Linked DNA regions of Homo sapiens. The protein of the gene in region 6 interacts with the protein of the main gene of each other region in a biochemical or structural test. Each region holds a gene or a part of one and is shown on either strand. Other genes may lie near its edges. The genes, in order: GRIP2, IL16, MAST2, APBA2, PDZRN3, TMEM178B and CASK.

Region 1 (4,086 bases), on a different chromosome or scaffold from region 6:
CCATTTACAGATTAGGAGAATGAGAATCAAAGAGGTGGAATGAGTTTCTCAAGGTCAGAGACTAGGAAGAGACAGAGCCAGGACGCAAACTCAGGCGAAGGATCCCCCATGGCCACAGCCCCTGCTGTGGAGTAGGAGGCCAGGCCTGCCTGAGGAGTCTCAGAGCCAAGGGGTAGGCCTGGTGAGGGCCCCTCGGAGGAGTGGGTAGCCCAGGGCACAGCAGGGGGACCTTCACACATGTACACCCACACCCACTGAGACTTCCCTGCCCCCAGCATGGCAGCAAGTGCCTGCTCAGACCTAGCAGGCCTGGAACAAAGATGTCTTTGTGGCTGCGGAGTCAGAGCAGGCCTCCCGTCCTCAAGGCAGGAGAGTGAACATGGAGAGGGACTTCCTGCCAAAATCTGTGTTCAGGCCTACTGTGTGCCCCAGCCTGGGCCAATGGAGATAGGTCACAGTCCCTTCCTGCCAGAACTCTGGGGTTAGTGACAGGAAAGCAAGACTCCCTGGAGTGAGACGACATGCCCAGGGTGTGGGGCCTGAGAAGGGACCCACCCAGAGTCCATCAGGAGCAGAGAAAGGGCATAGGGCTGCCTGGTCCACAGAGCCCAGCTCCAATCGGGGCACTCACTGACGCACACTGCCAGTGGGCTGACTTCTCAGGGCTGCAGTCTTCTGTGCCAAATGTGGAGGTATATGGCTGTCCTTACCAGCAACAGGGGAGGTCACATGACCAGGCCTGGCCAATCAGAGGCTCAGCGATCCATCAGGGGTGGGCATGTGATACAAGTTGGACCAATGAGAGCCGTTTCTGGGGCATTTGCTGGAACTACTGGAAATAGGCTCTCTTTCCTTAGGGATGACTGAGCTGGTTGACCTTAAGTTTGAAGGTGCCAGGAACTCTCAAGGAGAGGAGAGAGTCTGCCTGGAAATGAAGCTCACTAAAGTGAAGCAGAGCAAGCTACGAAGAGACCCAGAGTCCTAATGATGTTAATTGAGCATCTGGATCCCACTGTGCCTGAAGCTCCATCTTTACACTTTTTGGAAGAAGAGCCTTGGTGCTGATGCAAACTGAAGCAAGTGTGATCATGAGGTTCTGTGACCTGGGGAGGAGACCTAGGGTGGAGGCTACAGTGGTGAGGGTAGAGGTCAAGTAAGTCATCAGAGAGAGAAAATGTCAGAGAGGTCAGGAAGGGCCTTGAATGCAAGGCTTAGGAGCTGAGCAGATTTGTGTTTTGGCAAGCTTCCTCCCATGGCAGCAAAGGGGTGGAGGCCAGGCCAGGGAGGAGACTGGGCAAAGGCCCAGGCAGTTGATGCTGACCCTGGGCCGAGGTGGAGGTCACAGGCCCATGAGGAGGGGGAGACACCTCCCTGGCAGTGCCCCAGGTAAGGTCTCCAGGGCACTGCTGCCTTTGTGGCCCTGACCACAGCAGACCAAGGTGACCCCACTCACCTGGGCCTTGGGTTGAAAGAACAGATGTGTCCAGGCCAAGAAGGCAGAGCCTCCATTTACAGTGCAGTTGCCAAGGATGGGTGGGCCCATCGGGTCAAATCCCAGCTTTGTCACTTCTGGCTATATAACCCTGAACAAGTCACTTAGCAGCTCTCTGCCTCAGTTTCCCCAACTGCAAAATGGAGAGAATAACAGTACCCAAGTGGCAGTGTAGTTATGAGGATTAAATGAGAAAATGCACAGAAAGCTTAGAAAAGAGCCTGGCCCAGAGGAAGCTCTCGACAACAGCCAGCTATTATGATTATGAGTGTTATTTTTCCTGGGTCGCTAAGGCTGGGTCCAGAGGTGACCTGGCTCTGCTCCTTGCCATGGGAAGGGAGGTGGGAATCAAAGTCCACTGGGCCCTCAGAAGCAGGGCTGGGGGCTCTGCAGTAAAAGTCATCGGGGTGTCAATCCCAGCTCGGCCACTGCCCTCCCTGAGCCTTGGTTTCCTCCTCTGTCCACTGGGACCACAGTCCTTGCCCTTGGAGCTGTGGTGCAAAGATATGTCAAGAGCGTGGGAAGAAACCAGTGAGGCAACCCCAGGGCAGTGAATGCAGTATGTTCTGGTCCAGGCCCCAAGCTCCCTCTTTGGAGGAATAGGGTGAGCCCAGGCTGAGGCTGGAGAGACAGATGGAACAATCGTGTCTGCCCCTCCCCTGGGTCCCAGCCTCAGCACACCCAGGAATGTGGCAGCTGTGATCCCCCATCCCACACATTCCCAGAGCCCCAGGGGCTCACCAGTCAGACCCCCAAACCAGAGTTTCTCCTCCTGCCGAGAACCAGTCTCCTGCCCAGCTGTGCCAGCACAGGAACTCCTCACCACCACCTTGCCCATGGGCCTTGGGCTCTCACCCCTCTGGGTCGGACACTCACTCCCACCAGGCAGCTGTGCAGATCCTGAGATTGGGCAAAAGGCTTCGCTCACACCCAGATAGGACCAGCCTTCCCCCTACAAGGCTGAGCACTGCCCTCGGAACCTCCAGACCCGCCTGTTCTGCCTGCCTGTGCTGGACAGCCCTGGGGGAGGCTCAGCCATCCTGCTACAGGACAGTGGCCAGGGTCAGACAGACAGCCCCAGCAAGTGTCCTGCCCCACCCTCCCCAAGCCCTGGGTCTCCAGGGAGTGGCAGTCCCAGGTCTCAGCCATCCAGTCCCCTCTCTCTGGGCAGCAGCTCCAGAGGGATCTATGTGTTCAGCCCCATCACTCTGCCCACAGACCCCCCATTACGTACCCGCCTCTCCAGGGGTCTCCCGGCTGAGCCCACACAGCATGTTCGCTATTGTCTCCCCTGCTGCCCACCAACTCCCTCGGGAGCCACGCTGCTTGGCCCTCCCTCCCCTCCCCAGGGAGGGGCTGTGGGAGGGAAGCTCACAGCTCCCACTGGCTGGGCACCGAGTCCACCCACTGCAGCGGGCGGCTCTCTGCTTAAAGGGGACATGGCTATTGTCAAGGCTGGCTCCAGGACAGGGTCCAACATGCCCCACCCCTGCAGCCTGGGTCTGGACAGGGGGTCTTTGAAGGTGGCATGCCTGGGGCTTCCCCCAGGGCTCTCAGGCAGAGAGAGAGCCTGCTTCTAACTTGCCCTGGGACTTTGGCAAACGACTCTTCCCTCACTAGGCATCAGTTTTTTCATCTGGAGACAGGGAACAGTGCTTTCCAAACTTTTTTTTTTTCTAAACGGCAGATTCCAAGAGAATTTGCACAGAACCCCAGGACATAAGCTAGATGAAGCACAGACTCTTTGACTGCATGAACAATGCCAGGGCGTCTCTGTAGGTCTCAGCTTAGAAACCCTTGAGCTTGGAGACCCTCCAGGGCCCTCCCACCAATGTTCCAACTACCTCTCCTAGGTATCAGTTTTCCCTCGGTAAAATGGGACTTAGGAAAGATGAACCCGGCAGCCTGCCACGTGGAGTGGCCACCCAGCTTTTTGTGAAGACCAAGTGAGCTGGGTGGAGGATCTGCCCGCCTCTGGGCTTGATAGGCAGGGCCAGTTGGTCACAGGCTCCAGCCACACCTGGCAGGCTCTGCCCCGTCCCAGACCCAGCTGGGCCTTAGCCTTGCACACTCCTGGGATTCCTCCACATTGGCTCAGGACTGACCAGGCTGATCTTAATGGACACCTGAGGCTCCTCCTCTACCTGTCTGTGAGAAGGGGTGGCAGGCTGCACCCAATTTCCCCTGCCCTCCATCCCACCAGTGTGTGCTGGCACCAACTGAGGGTCAGACACCAAGAAGGGTGGGGTGATGGTGACAGGGCACTGAATGGTGGATGTCAACAACCTGTACAACTGCACAGTGCGTCTGGCAACAGAGAACCAGACAGACAAGGCCTGGCTCCCATGGAGTTCCTGACCGCGTGGGAACACACGAGCCTCATATTTCTTCCATGTGCCCTGCAGCTAGTGGGAGAGGGCTGCCCGGTAGTTAGGGACCCGAGGTTTCTTGTGGGTTCCCTCCAGAACAGTGACCCCAGCATGGAATTTAGCCACAATTCCTGGGCCGCCCCACACTGGCTCCTGCCAGCCCAACGCTAGTGGCACCTTTAGAATAATCCAGGTTCTAAATCTGGGGCAGGGCTACTTGTGCTT
Region 2 (3,500 bases), on a different chromosome or scaffold from region 6:
CATCATCATCATTATTTAAAGCCCGAAATTCTCTTCTGAACATCCTTTTGGCCCCAACCCAGGAATTGTGAAATACAATATTCTAAATGTTATTTTAGGAATGGTCTGTAATTGCAGTTTTGATTCCCAATTTAAACTCAGTTCTTCAGGAGATTTTTGGTGTTATTGTTAATTTCATGTAGTTAAATTTCCCAGATTTAGTGTTGCTGTTCTTACAATTTTTTATTAGAAAATTCCAGTTTAATTGCATCGTGCCACAGGATGTGTCTTATTTTTATTTGTTGGAATTCATTGAGGTTTACTCTGTTAGCCAGTATGTGATGTGACTAAGTGTTTTATGTGTTCTGTGCACATTTGAAAAGAATGATTATTCTGTGTTTTGGGTTTCAAATATGTATATATTCAAATGTGATATTAAAATGCAGTCATTATGGTCAACAAAGAACTGCTTATATGATAGTGGTCCCATAAGATTAAAATACCATATTTTTACTGTACCTTTTGTTACAAATGTTCAGATACACAAATACTTACCACTGTGTTACAAATGCCTACAATAACATGCTGTACAGGCTTGTAGACTAGAAGCAGTAGGCAATACCATATAGCCTTGGGGTGTAGTAGGCTATACCATCCAGGTCTGTTTAAGTACCCTATGTAACGTTTGTACGACGATGAAATTTCTCAGAACTTATCTTCATTGCCATGCAACACATGACTGCATATATATGTAAGCACATATTCAATTTTGTAAGTCATAGAATTCAAGCTCTTTATGTACATTTTGTCTAATTAATCTGAAAAAATCTTAACAGTGGTGTACATTGAAATCTAACACCATATTTGGAGTATATCTCTAATTTTTTTGTTTTACATATTTCGACGCTTTATGTTTACCCAAAGTTTTCTGATTTTCATGCCTTCATTGAGTGCTCTTTTTATCATTTTGTAAAAAAGTAATTCTTGATCTATTTAATAGTTGCCTCAATTTTTATTTTGTCTGACAAAATTAACACTGACACCTCACTTTCTTTTAATTTGCATTTGCACAGTATTTTCCTATCCCTTTATTTGTAACTTTATGTGATTAAGTTTTAAATGTGTCTCTTGAAAGTGGGATATAATTGGACTGGGGAGAGAGAGTTTGTTTCTTTAGGCTTTTTTTGTTTCCCTTTTTTAAACTGAATCTGAGAGTCTCTTTTATTTTAATGTGTAATCTTACTACAGAGCTTAATTGATTCATCTTTCTTCTCACATGTTTTGTTTTTCTTATTATGGCTCCTTAATTATTCCTTTTCTTGTTTTCCAGTCAACTTATTCACACTTTCTTTTCCTTCTTAATGAATCATAGGTTTCATTCATTTTATTTGATATTACTGGTGGCTATGTAAAGAATTTTTCAAAGCAATATTTGAGCCTGTATTTTTCCTCTTCATTGATTGCAAGAATGGCACTATCTGATGCCTCTTCCCTATGCAAGAGGTGAGGTGCTAGGTGCTCTCAGAGTGATTGACTATTTAGGGGACATCATAGATCATTATATATCATCTCTCAAGATTTTTTTTTTTTTTTTGAGATGGAGTCTTGCTCTGTCATCTAGGCTGGAGTGCAATGGTGTGATCTCGGCTCACTGCAACCTCCGCCTCCCAGATTCAAGCCATTCTCCTGCCTTAGCCTCCCGAGTAGCTGGGATGACAGGCACGTGCCACTATGCCCGGCTAATTTTTGTATTTTTAGTACAGATGGGATTTCACCAGGTTGGCCAACTGGTCTTGAACTCCTGGCCTCAAATGATCCACCCACCTTGGCCCCCCAAGGTGCTGGGGTTACAAGTGTGAGCCACTGCGCCCGGTCTAAGATTTATCATTTGCTTTATTTCAAAATCGTATTAACAACCGTCACTGAGACTTAAAATTTGTCTTGTTTTGTGGCCTGTCAATTTTTTTATCATCATGGTCTGCTCCCCCAACCCCTCCAGGCTCTTGCTCTGCCCTATCTTGAACTCCATTCTATTACAGCACTAAACCTTTTCAGTCCCCTGAATGTCCCATGCGCTCTCTAGCTTCCAGGACTTGGTGCAGGCTGCTTCCAATGCCTTCCAAATTTTCTTTTTTTTCTTTTTTTTTTTTAATTTTGTTATTATTATACTTTAAGTTTTAGGGTACATGTGCACAACGTGCAGGTTTGTTACATACGTATACATGTGCCATGTTGATGTGCTGCACCCATTAACTCGTCATTTAGCATTCAATAAACGTAATCCAGCATATAAACAGAACCAAAGACAAAAACCACATGATTATCTCAATAGATGCAGAAAAGGCCTTTGAGAAAATTCAACAACCCATCATGCTAAAAACTCTCAATAAATTAGGTATTGATGGGACGTATTTCAAAATAATAAGAGCTATCTATGACAAACCCACAGCCAATATCATACTGAATGGGCAAAAACTGGAAGCATTCCCTTTGAAAACGGGCACAAGACAGGGAAGCCCTCTCTCACCACTCCTATTCAACATAGTGTTGGAAGTTCTGGCCAGGGCAATTAGGCAGGAGAAGGAAATAAAGGGTATTCAATTAGGAAAAGAGGAAGTCAAATTGTCCCTGTTTGCAGATGACATGATTGTATATCTAGAAAACCCCATCGTCTCAGCCCAAAATCTCCTTAAGCTGATAGGCAACTTCAGCAAAGTCTCAGGATACAAAATCAATGTATAAAAATCACAAGCTTTCTTATACACCAATAACAGACAAACAGAGAGCCAAATCATGAGTGAACTCCCATTCACAATTGCTTCAAAGAGAATAAAATACCTAGGAATCCAACTTACAAGGGATGTGAAGGACCTCTTCAAGGAGAACTACAAACCACTGCTCAAGGAAATAAAAGAGGATACAAACAAATGGAAGAACATTCCACGCTCATGGGTAGGAAGAATCAATATCGTGAAAATGGCCATACTGCCCAAGGTAATTTATAGATTCAATGTCATCCCCATCAAGCCACCAATGACTTTCTTCACAGAATTGGAAAAAACTACTTTAAAGTTCATATGGAACCAAAAAAGAGCCCGCATTGCCAAGTCAATCCTAAGCCAAAAGAACAAAGTTGGAGGCATCACGCTACCTGACTTCAAACTATACTACAAGGCTGCAGTAACCAAAACAGCATGGTACTGGTACCAAAACAGAGATATAGACCAATGGAATAGAACAGAGCCCTCAGAAATAATGCCGCATATCTACAACTATCTGATCTTTGACAAACCTGACAAAAACAAGCAATGGGGAAAGGATTCCCTATTTAATAAATGGTGCTGGGAAAACTGGCTAGCCATATGTAGAAAGCTGAAACTGGATCCCTTCCTTACACCTTATACAAAAATTAATTCAAGATGGATTAAAGACTTAAATGTTAGACCTAAAACCATAAAAACCCTGGAAGAAAACCTAGGCAATACCATTCAGGACATAGGCATGGGCAAGGACTTCATGTC
Region 3 (3,500 bases), on a different chromosome or scaffold from region 6:
CTACAGTGGAGTTGGGAAGCATGAGGCATGAGGACATGTAAATAGTAATTACAATACTGCAAGAAGTGTTGCAGTTGAGGTCAGTACACAGCGTAACGGGAACCTGGAAAAGGAAGTGCTTTAGTCTTCCCTGGAAGGAACATTCAGTGAATGCTCCCTGGGGGACGTGAGGCTTATTCAGCAAACTGAAGGATGAGTCTAAGTTTCCCAGATCGGGAGCATGGGAAGGAGCATTCAGTGGGGCACAGGGTGGGTTTGAAGAAGTGCTGAGGGGTAAGCCTGGAAGGTAGGCTGTGACAGGGTCATGGAGGGTGTCGGGTTCTCGGCTCTGGAGTTTTTCATTACCCTTACGGCCACTTGGAGACACCAGAAAGTTTAGGTAAGAATGTGACATGGCCGCATTTACTTTTTTCTTAAAAAATATTATTAAGGTATAATTTTCATACAATAAAATATATCCCTTTGATGGTACAGTTCATTGAGATTTAACAAATACACACTTGTAGAATCGTGGCCACAGCTGACATAGAGAATATTTCTGTCATATAAGTTCCCTTGTGCCCCTTTGAAGTCAGTCCTCTCTTCCTCCTGCTCCCAGACAATAACTTAACTGCTTTGTTTCACTAGGGATGGGTTTGCCTTTTGTACAGTTTCCTAGAAATGAAACCATGTTTCTGTGTGGTTTCTGTAGTATGTTCTGAATTCTTTCACTCAGCATGTTTGTAGAAATTCATACATGTTGTTGCATGTATCAGTAATTGGTTCCTATTTATTTCTGTGTAAATATTACATCAGATTTAGTCCTAAGAAAGATTACTTTGGCTGCAACATGGATAGTGAATTGGAAGAGAGGGCAGGATGAGCCAGGGACATCAGGGGAGAGGTACTCAAAGCAAATTCATGTGAGATGGGGTGGCCAGAACTCAGACAGTGAATGGTAGGATAATAGAGAGAAAGAGGTGGATTAGAGGGGTATTTATGAGAGAGACATTCTGACCAAATAGGAGCTAAGGAAGGATAAGAAGTTAAAAGGACTTCCAGGTCTGGCGTAGGTTATATCCAGATAGGTACAGTTCTCCAAAACAGTGAGGCCACAGGGAATGAGAACAGAGTTCAGGGCAGAGGCTATGCTGTGATAGAGCAGAGAGCCTCTCCCTCAGGAACATGAAGTCCTTGGCTAAGCAGGGGCTTGGAGTCAGACCTGGGCTGAATGCTGGTTTTCTGTTCCTTCCTACTACTGTGATTATGGACAAATCAGTGCATCCCTGAAAGCCTTGATTTCCTCAGTGAGGTCAAAGAGTTGCTAGAGGGTTTAACCCAGTGTGTGGCACTTAGTAGGCACTCAGTTATTATGTGCAGACAAGGATTGTGCTTTTCAATGGATTTCCAGCCTCTAGCACATAGGAGGTGCCCAGTAAATATTTGAAGGTATACATGCACCAGTAGGGCTTTGCCAAAGCTCTTGTGAGCCATAATTGAGTGTGTGCCAGGACAGCTGTGGACTGGGCATCTGAATACACCAGACAGTGCCACCTGGCTGATGGAAAGCATGGGACCAGATCAATAGGCTGAGCTCTCTTTAGAGTAAAACCTCTAGTTCTTACTGCCAGGAAGACAGCATATGCTTAGCATGTCCAATCTGGAGGTGACCTGTAAGACATCTTTGTCCCCATTCCTGTGATCCCTGAATCATGTTGTTTCTGAATATTCAGGGGTGGGAGTGTCCTATCACAGAGAAAGTCTTGTTCATCTCAGTCTACTATATGCTGTAAAACCAAAGATGCCAGCAGCTTTCGCTTATATCTGTCACCACTGACTATCTCTCTCCCTTGGTACAGGAGTTTGACCCTGAAGAGTTCTACCACCTTTTAGAAGCAGCTGAGGGCCACGCCAAAGAGGGACAAGGGATTAAATGTGACATTCCCCGCTACATCGTTAGCCAGCTGGGCCTCACCCGGGATCCCCTAGAAGGTGAGCATGCTGCCTAGTGGCTGCAAAGAGGCCCCACTGCTGCTGGCAAGCTCTAACAGCAGGGAAGCTGCTTGGAAAAGAGACTTAGCTTGGACATGGACACAACATGGCCCCGGGGGCCTCAGGATTTTAGGAGATACCCTGTGATCTCTGTGACAAAACAGTCTTTACTTTGGAACTGCTGTTCACATCTGCCTGATAGATCCCAACCTGGATTGCATTGGCCCGGCTGAGTTGCATTTAGAACCTCAGTTCCAAAGAGGTCAACAACAAAGGGCCACAATCACATTTGCAAAAATGGTCACCTCCTCTGCAACTTGCCTCTACTCTTGGCCACCTTACAGGTCTTCCTGTGTCTTTGGGGTAGTCCAACACAGGGCTTCAGAGGATACTGCCATTCTTCTGGGCTTCCTGCTGAACCCCTGCAGCAACCATGGGCTTCCAAGTCCCTGGTCTGTAGGTATCCTGCTCCTGCCTTCTGTGCTTCCCAGCCCCATCCAGTGAAGCAGTCTTGGCCAGCAGGATGGGAACTAGTAACCCAGTTTCAGGCCCTGTTTTCCAGGAAATGTCCCCAGTTTATAGAATTTGCCAGGCCCTGTGAATGGCAATGGACTTCTGGAAATGGGAGTAGCAGTAGGATTTGGCTTGTTTCCTGATCCAAAAGCTGGGACTACATTGGGTATAGTGCCATGGGACTGAATTCACATCCTAGGCTGATGCAAAAAGCATTAATGACTACCCTACATGCACCTGTTGTGTGATCTGAGGATACTGCTGAGATACCTGACATTGCCACGCACATTCTTCTCTTGTATCTTTGTTTCCAGAAATGGCCCAGTTGAGCAGCTGTGACAGTCCTGACACTCCAGAGACAGATGATTCTATTGAGGTAAAAACCCTGAGCTCCTACCCCATTCCTGGAGCCTGGGCCCTATGAAGCAAAGAGCTATGAATTCTCTTTAAGAGAATATCTGAGGAAGGGATGGGGGAGTTGGTGACAGCAAACACTGAGAAGTCATTCTACTCCCAGAAGAATGAGCAGGAGACTGCACTAGAGCTGACAGCTGAGAAGATGCTAGAGCCACAGCTTCTGCAAGGATATGGGCTCTGAGAAGCATGCCTGTCTCCTGCCTTTTCCCTTGTCTTCCAGGGCCATGGGGCATCTCTGCCATCTAAAAAGACACCCTCTGAAGAGGACTTCGAGACCATTAAGCTCATCAGCAATGGCGCCTATGGGTAAAGGCAGGGGTCAGGGTGTGGCCAGGACTGAAGCCGGGTCAGCCTTTGATCTCTTCCATGTGAGAGTGTATGCTGCCCAGTCCTCTGGGCAGATGCCTCGGGGTGGACCTTCTCACTCCCAGAAGCCTCCTGGGTGGGCAGGAGTTCAGATTCCTCTGACATCCGATCATTGTTCCTTTCCCAGACAAGATTCCCACGCCTCTTACTACCACGCATCCTCCATTCCCTGAGCTCTGGGGAAGCATTGAGCCGTGTCATCAGGACATGGTCTATCAAGAAGTTTAAGAGTT
Region 4 (3,500 bases), on a different chromosome or scaffold from region 6:
TGAGAGGGTTGCTCACCAGGAGGCAGCCTGTGTGCCCAGCGGGGGCTGGGGGTGCTCTTTGTTCCCTTGGGTGGTGGTTGGCCCGAGTGCCCACAGGGAGGCTTCTCTGGCTCCTTCGTTTCCCAGAGTTCCTCCCCAACCCCCTGCCGCCCACCGCCTGGGTTGGGTCCAGCTCGTGTCTCAGAGCAGCCTGCTGGCACAGGCTGAGTCAGCTGTCGTGGGCACCGTCTTTTCTCGCCTCCCCTGAAGCCAATCTTCCCCTCTCTCCCTGTCCAGACACACAAGGGAGCCCTGGGAGGTAGGTGACCTCAAGATCATGCAGCCAGGCTCACTCTGTGGAACCCTACGTACTGGTGGGGTGCCACTGCTGTGTGCATTGTGATTTCTGTGCTGGCTGTGAGGTTTCCCAGGTTGGGGGCTGTGGGGTACTCCTGACTCTGCAAGTTGGCCCAGGCCAGGTGTGTCACCATTGCCCAGGCCTTCAGTGGCTTTCCAGTGCTCCCTCCACATCCACGTTACTCGGCTGGATTTTCTCAAGTTCCCCCACTTGCTCCCAAGAATGGCCCCTCCAGGCTGCCCTGGCTCCAGGCAGACAGGCTTACTGCCCAGATCTGCCCTGGGTTGTCCCCACCCCATCCCCACCTGTCATCTTGGCGCATGTCCATCCTGGAGATCCCAACTGAATGTGGGCTCTTTCCCTCTTATTCCTTGGTCCTCAGATTTGTCAGGCCACTCTTGCCTCAGGGCCTTTGCACCTGCTGTTCCCACCCCCTTGGCATGAGCCACCCCCAGATGCTCACATGGCTGGCCCCTCACTTATTGCCCACTCCCTGAAAGCCCTACATAAATTGGCTTTGTTAACCTTGCTTTGTGTTTCTCTTGTTAACCTTGCTTTGTGTTTCTCCTTAGTACTCACCATTCAGTGTGTTATTTATTTACTTGTTTGTTTATTGTCAGTCTCTTACCACTCAATTGTAAAAGACTTTGTTCACCTCTGGATCCCCAGTAGCTAGAAAAGTGCCTGGCACACAGCAGAGCCTTAGCGCTGTTGTTGGATGAGTGAGTGAACGAAACACGGGAGCAGTAGTCTCCTTGCAGCACATGTCCTGCTCCCTGTGCCTCCTTTTCCCGCGTCCCAGAGCTGGAACCTAGCTGTGTTCACATTTGGATCCTCCTGGCATGTAGCACAGACCCTCACTCAGTGGGCAGTCAGGAAAGAGCTGTAGAATTGTACAGTGCAACGTCAGTTTCACATAGGCCAGAGGAGAATGTGTTTGGGAAGGTAAGCAGCCCAAAGAGTGAGCTTTCTGATTCTGCACTAAGATTCCTTTTTGGATTTTCAGTTGTTTGGGTTCTCTGCACCCAGGCGGTCCCTGCTGCCAAAGTCAGCTCTGTGTCTCCCTGCAGTCACCTCGGATGTGGATGCACTTTGGAAGGAGGCACCCCCACGCCCAGATTCCCTTCCCACTCCATCTGGATCTTTCCAAACTTGTCTTGTATGTAATGTCAGACTCTGTCCCAGGGCTCCCAGCCACTCTGCTTTACCTTCCAGAAGCCTCCGCCTGCCTGACTGTCTCTTGCCTGTGTCCTGGCCTAGTTGGAGGAGATGCTTTAGTTTTATGAGAAAGGGACTGGGAGGTTGGAAAAGAGGATGGGATTTGGAGTAACAGGAGCTCAGTTCCAGCCTGGCCCTGCCACTAATCCCTGGGGCCCAGGGCCAGTCACCTGGCTTGAGAGTCTTTCTCAGCATCTGCAATACACGCACGAGGCCTCTTGCCTGCGGTTGTTTTGAGGCACAAATGAGATGCAATATTTAACTGATGCAAGATATTTTATGACAGCAAGTCATTTGGTGTGGCCACGTAGCCTTGGGCCTGTGTGGCTTCTCTTACTGTCCTGAGAGTTTTAAGGGTCAGGTTTGTGAGTTACAGCTACGGCCTAGTGAGAGAATGCAGAGGAGGCACGTCATAAACTCTAAGGGGCTGTTTTAATATAAGGTGCTATGTCTGTTGTTTTGTGTTTCAAGGATCAAAGTTAAGAGAAAAAAAATATGTGGTTGAACTTCCTGCATTGAGTGACTGAAAATATTTTCATCTCTAGTTTTCTGGAAACGGAAACACTCCAACATTTGAAGATGGTTTTGATGGCGAAACCACTGGAATGAAATGCACATCATTGGGCAATTCTGTGTGTTGAGTTTCATCCTTCTTTGTTTGTCATTTTAAATAATTTCCCGACAAATCTGGAAGGCACGTCTTGTCTTAACTTTGCAACAAGGAGGCTGGGGACAGGTAGCTGAGCTGTGGGTTGCCTAAGAACACTCTGCTGTGACGGGGCAGTGCTGGCCTTTGAGCCTGAGCTGGAGAGAGTGTGAGGCCCATGTTTTCTCCCTGTCTCCTGCTGGGGCCCATTTTGTATCAGATTTGTTTTTCACGGGGTGGGCATGACTAGGACTCGTGACCACTGGTGGGCAAGTACAGAGGCTAATTTTCAACACGTGCCGAGAGACTGATGGCTGGCATCAGAGAGTCATGGAAATGCCACAGATGACATGGGCCCTTCACAGGGATGGGGAGAGGGTCTGGGAGCTTGCCCTCCAGGAAGGTGGCTGACATGGTTGGTGGGACATGAAGGTGTTTTCCGTTTTGCACTTGAAGCCAACATGGATTCTTAGCACTTGTTGTCCCTAGAATCAACTGCGCAGAGAGATGCTTGGTTCTGAAACTCTCAGGCAAGGACAGTTCTGAGGAAACTCTCATTAGTAAATAGTGAGTCGGAGAACACTATTGACATTTGGCATTTTCAGTTGAGATATATGTGTACAGTCATGCGTCACATGACAGTGTTTTGGGGAATGATAGCATATATGACAGAGGTCCCATAAGATTATTATGGAGCTGAAAAATTCCTATTGCTTAGTGACATTGTCGTAAAGTTGTAGTGCAGTTACTTTATTTTTTAAAAAAATTTAATGTAGCCTAAGTGTACAATATTTATAAAGTCTACGCTAGTGTACAGATGGACTCACCCAGAGAAATTTCCAGTCTTGCAAGCTCCATTCATGGTTAGTGTCCTAGATGGGGTACTGTGTTATATATAATATATATATATGTTTTTTTGAGACGGAGTCTCGCCCTGTCACCCAGGCTGGAGTGCAGTGGCTCAATCTCAGCTCACGGCAAGCTCTGCCTCACGGGTTCATGCCATTCTCCTGCCTCAGCCTACCGAGTAGCTGGGACTACAGGCACCTGCCACCACGCCTGGTTAATTTTTTTGGATTTTTAGTAGAGACGGGGTTTCACTGTGTTAGCCAAGATGGTCTCGACCTCCTGACCTCATGATCCGCCCACCTCGGCCTCCCAAGGTGCTGGGATTACAGGCGTGAGCCACCACGCCTGGCCCATGTTTTATCTTTTATACCATATTTTTACTGTGCCTTTTCTATGTTTAGATAGATACTTGTGTTACAGTTGCCCACAGTATTCAGCGTGGTAACATGC
Region 5 (3,500 bases), on a different chromosome or scaffold from region 6:
GATCTCAGAGGCCAGCACATATCTTAGACTGTTGCCTGGGCTCGAGCCTAGTTCTCTGCAGAGATAAAATCTAACAATGAAGCAATAAGCAGTAAAATATTGTCCTGTTTCCTGCGTAGAGATGGAGTTAGAAATCAGTCACGCTGAATCACGTGACTGGCAGGCTCCGGGATGGGCTCTGCAAACAACAAAGCCCATCAGGCTTGCACTTTGCATCTTAAGTCCTTCAGGAGGAAATGTACTAAAGGCAAATGGTAAAATTAGGATGATGGAGGTCCTGACCGTGCTGAGAGCCCCATCCAGAGGGAAGTGAGTCATGAAAGGGCCCACACCCTGGGAATTGCTACTGTGCCACTGGCCTGACAATGGGTGTAAGAAAAACAGATACTGACAACGGAAGAAGGGCTGTAAAGATGTTGCATCTCTTTTCAGGCATCCCTCAGCCCATGAATACTACGATCCAAATGACTACATTGGAGACATCCATCAGGAGATGGACAGGGAGGAGCTGGAGCTGGAGGTATGAAGAACATCCTTGTCTCATTTTAGGAGTCATTATTAAGAACACAGAATGCCTAATAAGTTCTCTATAAGCATAAATTAGTTTACGGATGCCGATGGAAAGTAACAAAAGCAGAACCACTTTTACTGATGCCCTTTGAAAGGCACAACTGAGATTCTTCTTCCTTCCTTGGAAACAGAGCTTAATAATCAAGTCCCAAAAGCAGAAATGTAAACTTTTTTTAATTTGAATCACTTAAAAGTTAGGACAGTAAATCCTGTTGTCAACCTTTGAATCCACATAATCCATACATTCTTGTAACTAACATAAGCCTCCTCACCTTCCTCCCTTTTATGTCATCACCACTCTTTACTCAAAGGCAGATGGCTCAAGAGTAGGTGGATAAATTACTTGAGTGAATGCTAGCCCGCCCTAACAAAAGGGTTTGTTCACTGCTTCACTTGCTTCAAGTTTGCTAACATTGATACAGAAGAAATTAAACAAGTCTGCAACTCTTCTTAAGTGTTATTTGAGGCCACACAGGAATAAAGATTCAAGATGCTACATAATGTCAAATAGGTCTCTGTTAAGGTTTAAAATATTTAGAGGACACCAGGTTGCCAACAGAGTTCTACTTCCCATTTTCCTTTTATTAAGGGTGATAGAAAATACAGAAAACACTAACTTGTATAATATATTTATATTTTGGGGAAAACACTTTTATATTTCAATGGGGTTTCAAAAAATATAACAGCATTTTTGAAAGCTGATTTTATGGAATAAGGTAAAAAGACACCTGATGTTGACAGGTAAGCCCTTGGGTACCATCAAAAGGTCACCCAGGAAAAATCGAACATTTTATCCAATTTCATGGCTAACTGTTGTGTAATCTATGCTGTCCTACCAATACTTCTGAAGTTGAATTGTTCAGTGGCAGTAGGTTCTGTGCAAGGACAGAAGCAGTCAAATAGTAGAAAACAGCTATGTTCCTCAACTTAAAGTTACCAAGAGTTCTCATTCCAAGACAGAAGTTAAAAATCAATAATTGTGTGCAAACGATGACTTCACTGATGGTTAGCCAGATACAGTCAAATCAAAGGACTTGTTGCCAGTGGCATGACTGACTCTGTGCCAGTTTTCAGAAATTTAAAATTTTCCCTAAATGCACCTGGTCTAAACAGCAATGGCCAGTATTCTCACTATAAAAACTTGACTGTTTCTGCTTGCTGTCAGCCACTTACCAAAGCGCTTGCCATTTAACAATTGTTCCAGAAAATGTAGTTTTGTCATTTTCAAAAATCAGGATTCTGCCTCTTATTTAGTGTCCTATCACCCCAGCTTCAGGGCTGTTTGGTGAAGCAGCCGTGACTCCTTCAGGACACTTGTTCCTTAATTTGTTATGTATGTTCCTTCCAAAGGGGGTTCATAATGAAATACATTTGGGAAATGCCAGACTGAAGACAACGAAACAGATTTCTTGGAGGACTTCTGAGAATCTTGACTATCTACCTAGAATCCCCTGGGGGAGTGGGCAGAATTTCCCCCACCTCTCTGGCCAAGTACCTGTTTATATTTCCTCAGTCTACAGTTCTCTGGAACACTGTTGGAGAAACACTGCTCTCCAAACAGAGGGCTATTTCGTAATCTTTATGGGACGACACTGCTTTTTGATGATGTAATTGTGGCAAAGTAGAGTTCTTTTAAAAAGCTGTAAAGTGTTTCAGAAGCTAGAGTTATGAAGTAGTAGAGACTTTGTAGTCTTTGGTATTTAGTTAAACTTGACTTTGTAGCAGTGGGTTCTTTAGTTCTTTTTTTAGTTTCTAATACCTTTGAGAATCTGATGGAACCTACAGCCCCCCGCTCTGGAAAAATGCTCCTGTCTGTGAGAGCTTGCATATGGTTTCAGGAGATTCACTGAGCCCCCACAGTATCTGCCCAATTTGGGCCATTCTGCCTTACAGTTTTTCCTTATACCTGACTATCACCAGAACTCTTACGTGCTTTCTATTTCTCTTTAATTCGACTCAACTTATTTAAACTACGGTAATTTTATTTTAAAGGAAACACTATACCACTGCGTCAAGCAGAAAGTCAGCATCCATTGCCTTAAATAGAAAATCCCATACAATTAAATACAGTGGACACAAGCCAGTGTTATTTATTAAATCCTGGTGCTCAATAAGGGTGCCTGCTGAGGGTTGGGAGCCTGGGGCCACTACATCCTGCCTTTTCTCTAAGGAGATTAGCTAGTATTAAAGAAGTGTTAAGACTAGCCCAGACTGAGTCTTTCTCCTCAAAGCATGAAGCACCTGAGAGCATCCTGCTTTCAGCAGGAGGGAGCCACTCAGAAACTGTTCCCTAGAACCCTGTTGTTCAAAGTGTGGTAGGAGGACCAGCAGCCTGGCTGGTCAAAGTAGAGTTCTCACCTAGGAGATGTGGGAACTACAGAAACTTGGCCCCCTAGATCTTCAGAATCAGAATCTGCACTTTAACAAGGTTCCTAGGTACCTCGGTGCCCATTAAAGCCAGAGGACCCCTGACCTACAGGCCACAGACCCAGATAAAGCAGCCCAAGCTATCATTTCCTCTTGTTCTCTTGAGTCACACCAGCGAGGCTTTTGTGGTGCCTTTCATTCACTGCAGTGTCGAGATGTGCCGCCAAGTCACGAATATTGTCCACACTGTCCCTGCAGTGTAACATTATCAGGGCCTAGGAACGACTGAGCCCCTCGTAGGCATGTGACACTGTGTTCCTAAGACTGCTTCTCTCTTTTCATGAATAAAAGCAGACACAACGCAGGTGTTTAGAAAACTAGTCTGGTATTAATATTTTAAGCTAGACCTTGGATGCCATCAGACTTTATATTCGTGTTTATTTTCAATTCTGTTCATTTTATTGTCTCTTACATTAAATATACTGTTTGGCCCTAGAAATGCAAAATCACGAAGTCACCACTCTGCCTGCCCTTAAGGAGCTCACAAGCCATTAGGACCATTA
Region 6 (3,500 bases):
ACTGCAACCTCCGCTTCCTGGATTCAAGCCATTCTCCTGCCTCAGCCTCTCGAGTAGCTGGGATTACAGGCATGCGCCACCACACCCAGCTAATTTTTGTATTTTCTGTAGACACAGGGTTTCAACCATGTTGGCCAGGATGGTCTCAATCTCTTGACCTCGTAATCCGCCCTCCTCAGCCTCCCAAAATTCTGGGATTACAGGCGTGCGCCACCGTGCCCAGCCGTGGAGTATTTATTTATTGTCCGTCTCTCCCCTCTGGAATGTAAGCTTCTCCATTTGGTCCAACACTGTACCTGATGCACAGCCCAAAGGCCCTCAATAAATACTTGTTGAATGAATGAATGTGTCCTTCATGTCTATAATTTCAGCATCTACCACAGCAAGCGAAGTAAATAAGCAAAAGTTATATGACAAAATGTGTATGCACTTTGGTCAGTGAGCTTCAAAACAGGGTGTGTGAGCCACTCTCATTACTTCAATTTAGAATTGAGATTCCAAGAGTATTATTTCCTTTTTATTCTCAATTTGTGGAATCAATATCCCAGTTTCTTCTCCACCTCACTCCTGCCCCGATAGATTCTAAGATGATGGTAGAGTGTGGTGGGTGAGTTCCCACATCCAGAGCCAGAATTCAAATTCTGACACCTTTGTTTCCTAACTAACTGTGAGAATTCACAAGTTATCTGACCTTTCTGTGCCTCAGTTCCCTCAAATTTAGGATGAGAATTTAAAATAATACTTATACTTCCTAGGGTTATTATGAACAATAAATTAGCTAATACATATAAAACTTTTAGGAGAGACCTGTCATCAAGATTGGCTATAATTATCATTAATCTCTTTCCCACCCCACCAACTTTGCAAGTGATGTTTAATGGAGATGGAGAGGGCAGGAGGGAAGAAGGGAGAAGCTTGTGAGAATTCTGTGAGTTGATGATAGAAAATTAAAATATAAATTTACTATAATTGACCATGAACTAAAGCCTTCTGCCCAATATATTCAAGTAGCAGTTTCTTAAAGTGTAGAATGATATACTTAAATTTAAACCCAAGTTATCATGGAATTATACTCATCTGAAACAAAGTTATGTGCTTGGTTCTTTTAGAGGCTATAGGCTCTGCGTGGCGCTGTCCAACAGAATTTTCTCCGATGGTGGGAATGTTCACTGTAATCTGCACTGTCCCATACAATAGCCAGTAGGCACATACGGCTACTGAACATTTGAAATGTGGCCAATACAACTACGGAAATAATTTTTGTTTGTTTGTTTTTTGAGACAGAGTCTCGCTCTGTCACCCAGGCTGGAGTGCAACGGCATGATACCAGATCACCGCAACCTCTACCTCCTAGGTTCAAGCGATTCTCCTGCCTCAGCCTCCTGAGTAGCTGGCATTACAGACACACACCACCATGCCCAGCTAATTTTTGTATTTTTACTAGAGATGGGTTTTCACCATGTTGGCGAGGCTGGTCTCGAACTCCTGAACTCAAGTGATTCACCTGCCTCGGCCTCCCAAAGTGCTGGGATTACAGGCGTGAACCACTGTGCCCAGCCTATTTTATTTAACTTTGGTTATTGTTAACTTGAACAGCCACATGTGGGTTGTGGCTCCCCAACTGGGCAGCATAGCTGTAGGGGATTTGATATACGAGCTCCCTGACTTGGTCCATGGCTGCTCTCCAGCTCCTGGTCTGCTCCTTCTCCTTGCCCCAGAAATCAACACTCACAAGGCCAAACTGCTGTTCCACACCTCTATGGCTGTGCATATGCTGGCCCATTGCCTGAAATATCCTTCCTCCACATCCACCTCCAAACCTTATCAAACATCTTGTTCAGATTTCATTTCCTCAGGACAACTTTCCCTAACCTCCTCCTGCCTACCTCCCGCTACTGCCGACACAATCCACCATCACTTTCTCTGTGTTCCTCTGCATCTGTTTCTGTTGCTGCTCTCATCATCCTGTAGTTGTAACCTATTTTCTCTGACACTAACAGACTATGCAAATTCTGAGGACCAGATCTTATGCATTTCTTCATCCTAGCGATGTGTGCCCATAACACAATACATGTGTAGTAAATATTTGCTGATCCCATTATTAATTTTTAAATATGTGAATGTTTTCTTAAAATTACTTTTGGAGTATTGACAACCACTCTGTGATTATGGGAACTCTTTAAGTCAAAGTCTATTATAAGGCCAATTTTCAAATAATAAAAAGTTCTTAGAGTATCAGTTGAAGTTCTACTTATTTCAAACTATATCAATATAATATTTTAGTACAAACCAAATAATATAATTTTCCCCTTAGAGTTCCCTAGAACAAAATCCTACCTATAACTCCTCCTCCTAAGGGTCTGGAAGTCTCTTGGATTTCAGAAACTGATCTTGTCACTGATCTGTCCCCAGTGCCTGCAGTCACTTACTAGGGAGACATGGATGAGATTTAAAAGCAAGAAGACAAAAGGACCTGATTTAAGACTTGTCATGGATGCCAACAAATGGGAATTCAGGGTAATCTACCCTTGCTGTACCCTATATCCAATCTTACCCCCAAGAAGGAAATAATTAAAACCTTATCCATCATAAAAAATAATGTCCACAAGTGATATGTGTCTGCTTAGTGACATGTTATCCAAAACAGAATTGTCTGTTTTCCTTATTCTTTGGCAAAGCTCAAGAAATCGTCCCTTCATAGATTATGTAGCATTTGTTGCAATATTGACCTGGCCTGACAGCCACACTGTTTCATATTTTCCCATCACGATTTTCTAATTTTTTACTTAAATTCTCACACAAGTGTTTCTATAATTAGAATAAGCTTGGATGGATACATTTCTGTGAACCTAATTTGTATGAAATATTTCCCAAATACCAAGCATCTGGTGAATGTATTTAACAAATGATGGTCTTTCCTGACCTCTAGGAACTTACAGTTTAATAATGCAAACAAATGAATACACAGTGATGAGAAATGCATACGTGTGGGTACAGCATGGCAGAAGGTCCTGGAGGGGAATGGATTTCAGAATGAATATGAATCCAGAGGACTTTACCTTCAAATCAGACATAGATTTGATGTTCGTTTTCTTATTAATTATGTGGTTTTATGTTGAAATGCACAAATAGCACTTTCTAATGTAATGAACATCGATTTAACAAATAACTAAGTTCTTTAGATCATTTAGATAAGTCTCTAATTTTCCTATATATTAACGGATTTTAAAGTCTTTTCTCTGGTTTTCTTTTTCCCTTGCCCATTACATATCTTCCAGAATTTTAATCAAAGTAGATATTTCAAAGAAGACAGAGGTCTGAGATCTCTTTTGCGGTTTCTAATGAATAATGTGAGATAAACATCTTTTTCTAAAATGTCTCATTTAAATATAGGGATATCAGTTTCTCTTTTTAACTTCCTTATAAAATCTGCCCATCTAAGAGGAACACTAAGTGTAAAAATTGTGTTCTATATGTTATTGGAATTGCTTGTGAATTCT
Region 7 (3,500 bases), on a different chromosome or scaffold from region 6:
CCTCCTGAGCAGCTGGGATTATAGGCGTGTACCACCATGCCCAGCTATTTTTTGTATTTCCAACAGAGACGGGGTTTCACCATGTTGGCCAGACTGGTCTCAAACTCCTGACCTCAGGTGATCTGCCCGCCTCAGTCTCCCAAAGTGCTGGGATTACAGGTGTGAGCCACTGCACCTGGCCACCTACTGTCTGTTTTTGTAAACAAAGTTTTACTGGAACACAGCCATGTGCTTTTGTTTACATATTGCCTATGGTTGTTTTCATGAGACAACAGCAGAGCTAAGTGCTTGTGATAGACTGTATGGCCTTAAAGCCTCAAATGTGTACTATCTGGTCCTTTACAGAAAAGGCTTGCCCACCCCTCACCTAAGTGAGTGTAACTGAAGTATATGCCAATAAGCTCTAGTTCTGTGGATACTAATAGGACCAGTATCCTGCAAAACACACTTTAGGAAATGTTTTTCTAGATGAGCCAGGAACACTGGTTTTAATATTCTCTCTCCCTACCCCCCTTTCTTTTCTCCCTTCCTTCCCTTTTTTTCCCTCTCTCTCTCAATTTCTTTGCTTCCTTCTTTCTTTGAGAAAGAACAAATTTATGCTACTCTCTTCTGTATACATGAGCCTAAACTAATGGGGAATCCCCCTTTCCTGCTAGCCTGTTTGTTAGAACATAAAGTGCTCGTGGTCATCAAAATGTGGACATTTTAAGAGAAGCCCTTTCTCTAGGCACATCAAAAGCTGAAGAACCGGCGTTACTATTTATTTATTTATTGAGACAGGGTCTCACTCTGTTGCCCAGGCTGGAGTGCAGTAGCAAGATCTCAGCTCACTGCAACTTCCAGCTCCCGGGTTCCAAGCGATTTTCATGCCTCAGCCACCCTAATAGCTGGGACTACAGGTGTGTGCCACCATGCCCGGCTAACTTTTGTATTTTTAGTAGAGATGGGGTTTCACCACATTGGCCAGGCTGGTCTCAAACTCCTGGTCTCATGTGATCCACCCATCTCGGCCTCCCAAAGTGCTGGGATTATAGGTGTGAGCCACCGCGCCCAGCCAAGAACTTACATAACATATTGATGTTGTACTATCTTCAGTCATCTCAGTAGTTAGATATATGTTATATACACATACAGGGTCAAATATTTCAAAGACTAGTCATGATTGACATCATCAAAGGTAAGTTTTAAAACCAAACTAGTTAACTGGCCATTTAATAACATGGAAGTTCAGTTGTTACGTGGTTAAGAAGAAGCTAAATGTTAGCTAAGCTTGCTGTACTCATGATCTAGACATAAGGAGAATTAAAAGAACACTTCAAAGTGTTTTACTAGAAAACCCCAGTAGTGCCAAATGAGACACTATTGGATACATTTCTTTTCTTGTGTAAATCAGACAAGGTTTTGGGATGAAGGTTTTCTCATGAAGCCTCCTGGCTCTCTGAGGTGTACAGATAACTGTAAGTGGTATTGACATTGCTTCAGGAAGGCATGTGAAGGCCCTATAGAATGGAGCCAATCTTCACATTTTCTCCTGTTGCTCTTAAAAAATAATTTTCCTTTAGCTCTTCCAACCCTGAGCTGCTAGAAAGCTTCTGGGGTTAAAATTTTATTTATTTTTTTTTGAGACGGAGTTTCACTCTTGTTGCCCAGGCTGGAGTGCAATGGCACGATCTCGGCTCACCACAACCTCCACCTCCGGATTCAACTGATTCTCCTGCTTCAGCCTGCTGAGTAGCTGGGATTACAGGCATGCACCACTATGCCTAGCTAATTTTGTATTTTTAGTAGAGACGGGGTTTCTCCATGTTGGTCAGGCTGGTCTCAAACTCCCGACCTCAGGTGATTCGCCCACCTCAGCCTCCCAAAGTGCTGGAATTACAGGCATGAGCCACCGCGCCTGGCCTAAAATTTTAAACTTTAGAATAATGATGATAATAATGAAATGATAGTGGTAGATAGCTTCTACTTATCCACCATCTGCTAAGTGCTTCATACACATGATCTCAAATCCTCTCTGCAATCCTGAATTACTTCATTTTACAATTGAGAAAATGAAGAGGGCAAGAGGTTAAGAATAAGATACGGAAAATAAGGAGAATTAAAAATCTTACAGATTTGAAAATCTTTACAGAAACAACTGTTAGCATATTGATTGGGTTTAAAAAGTGGTAAGAAATCAACAATTTAAATATTAACTAAGGGAAAAAAATTGTCATATCAGAAACTGTACAACTATGAAAACTTATTTTTCTGAAGAATAATTCATCTAGGTAATGTGTATGACATATTGTTAGAAAAATTGTTACAAACAGAATGGATAAAACTAATTTTATTTAAAACACACACACACACACACACACACACACACACACACACACACTTTATACACATATCTGTACTAAGACAAGCCTAGAAGGGTATACAACAGAGAAGCCTAGAAGGGTATACAACAAAATATTTATAGCACTTATTATAGGGAAAGAGGGGTTGGGATTACTGTTAACTCATTTTCCTCCTTGTTCTTTTTTTGATTTTACAAATTTCCTACAATGAACAGTTATACCTTATGTAATCAGAAAAAAATACATAAATTATAGAGTTAAAAAAGTGATAGGAAAAATATAATGAAAAGAGATTGAGACATTGCTTACGTGGAATAGGGTACGCAAACCGGTCTGGGTGCTTTGTGATGAGAGTGTTTTTTATGTGTCTTCTCCCAACACCATGTGCGCCTATGTCATTTAGAAAAAAAGAATGTTAAAACTGACAACTCTTAATAATGTTCACAAAATGTTTTGAAAGTGAGAATAAGCAACTCACTTACACAATCAAACTTACCTAATAAGACTAGTGTTTTCCTCTTGAATGCTGGCAGTTTTACTACTTCTTCATATGTGACAAGATCTAATTGATCAAACACTAAAACGCAAAGATTTAGAAGAAAGGTAAATTTGTAGAATGACTATTTCATGTACATAAATTATAATTTTACTGGCAAAACTACAGTTATATTAAAACCATGTCTTAAAAATATGAATCCAACTTATGATATATGGCTTACATGTAATTTAAGTCATATAGCATCTAGGGAGAAATTTTCATTTTTAAGCCCATGAAAATGCTCTTTAGAACCAGGGGCATCCAAAGATGCTGAACACATGCATTAAAATGTCCAAATCTAAAAGATACTACATATCTTTTCATGTAGTATCCAACAAATCATATGAATTAATTTGAAACCACATGCTGTTCATATTTTTCCAATTCTAAGAAGTCAGCAATACTAAAAAGAAAAAGTCTACAGACAGTGACCAACATGAATATAGCATGAATGCAACTAAAGTTAACCAGGAGAGGGGCCAGCTAGATCATTTCTAGAGATGGATGAGAAATGCATGGACAGCTGGTCTTTAACTTCATGGTTCTTTCTTTCAACAGAGTTGATGAAGGTGGCATGCTAGATTCTAAGGCAAGTTCTGTAACTATTGCACAAGCTTATC

What was found.
Region 1: the proteins of TMEM178B (region 6) and GRIP2 interact in a test that uses a peptide from one of them, tested with the Homo sapiens proteins (one large-scale study listed by IntAct).
Region 2: the proteins of TMEM178B (region 6) and IL16 interact in a test that uses a peptide from one of them, tested with the Homo sapiens proteins (one large-scale study listed by IntAct).
Region 3: the proteins of TMEM178B (region 6) and MAST2 interact in a test that uses a peptide from one of them, tested with the Homo sapiens proteins (one large-scale study listed by IntAct).
Region 4: the proteins of TMEM178B (region 6) and APBA2 interact in a test that uses a peptide from one of them, tested with the Homo sapiens proteins (one large-scale study listed by IntAct).
Region 5: the proteins of TMEM178B (region 6) and PDZRN3 interact in a test that uses a peptide from one of them, tested with the Homo sapiens proteins (one large-scale study listed by IntAct).
Region 7: the proteins of TMEM178B (region 6) and CASK interact in a test that uses a peptide from one of them, tested with the Homo sapiens proteins (one large-scale study listed by IntAct).

The regions. Positions count from the first base shown.
Region 1 is NC_000003.12:14,537,543-14,541,628, forward strand, and holds the start of GRIP2 (glutamate receptor-interacting protein 2), read right to left. Parts: upstream 2,801-4,086; 5' UTR 2,767-2,800; coding exon 2,727-2,766; intron 1-2,726.
Region 2 is NC_000015.10:81,203,379-81,206,878, reverse strand, and holds part of IL16 (pro-interleukin-16), read right to left. Parts: intron 1-3,500. UniProt on the Homo sapiens protein: Interleukin-16 stimulates a migratory response in CD4+ lymphocytes, monocytes, and eosinophils. Primes CD4+ T-cells for IL-2 and IL-15 responsiveness. Also induces T-lymphocyte expression of interleukin 2 receptor. Ligand for CD4.
Region 3 is NC_000001.11:46,020,112-46,023,611, forward strand, and holds part of MAST2 (microtubule-associated serine/threonine-protein kinase 2), read left to right. Parts: intron 1-1,838; coding exon 1,839-1,971; intron 1,972-2,798; coding exon 2,799-2,860; intron 2,861-3,121; coding exon 3,122-3,207; intron 3,208-3,500. UniProt on the Homo sapiens protein: Appears to link the dystrophin/utrophin network with microtubule filaments via the syntrophins. Phosphorylation of DMD or UTRN may modulate their affinities for associated proteins. Functions in a multi-protein complex in spermatid maturation.
Region 4 is NC_000015.10:28,888,974-28,892,473, forward strand, and holds part of APBA2 (amyloid-beta A4 precursor protein-binding family A member 2), read left to right. Parts: intron 1-3,500. UniProt on the Homo sapiens protein: Putative function in synaptic vesicle exocytosis by binding to STXBP1, an essential component of the synaptic vesicle exocytotic machinery. May modulate processing of the amyloid-beta precursor protein (APP) and hence formation of APP-beta.
Region 5 is NC_000003.12:73,397,942-73,401,441, reverse strand, and holds part of PDZRN3 (E3 ubiquitin-protein ligase PDZRN3), read left to right. Parts: intron 1-432; coding exon 433-520; intron 521-3,500. UniProt on the Homo sapiens protein: E3 ubiquitin-protein ligase. Plays an important role in regulating the surface level of MUSK on myotubes. Mediates the ubiquitination of MUSK, promoting its endocytosis and lysosomal degradation. Might contribute to terminal myogenic differentiation.
Region 6 is NC_000007.14:141,077,064-141,080,563, reverse strand, and holds part of TMEM178B (transmembrane protein 178B precursor), read right to left. Parts: intron 1-3,500.
Region 7 is NC_000023.11:41,532,055-41,535,554, forward strand, and holds part of CASK (peripheral plasma membrane protein CASK), read right to left. Parts: intron 2,920-3,500; coding exon 2,839-2,919; intron 2,733-2,838; coding exon 2,652-2,732; intron 1-2,651. UniProt on the Homo sapiens protein: Multidomain scaffolding Mg(2+)-independent protein kinase that catalyzes the phosphotransfer from ATP to proteins such as NRXN1, and plays a role in synaptic transmembrane protein anchoring and ion channel trafficking.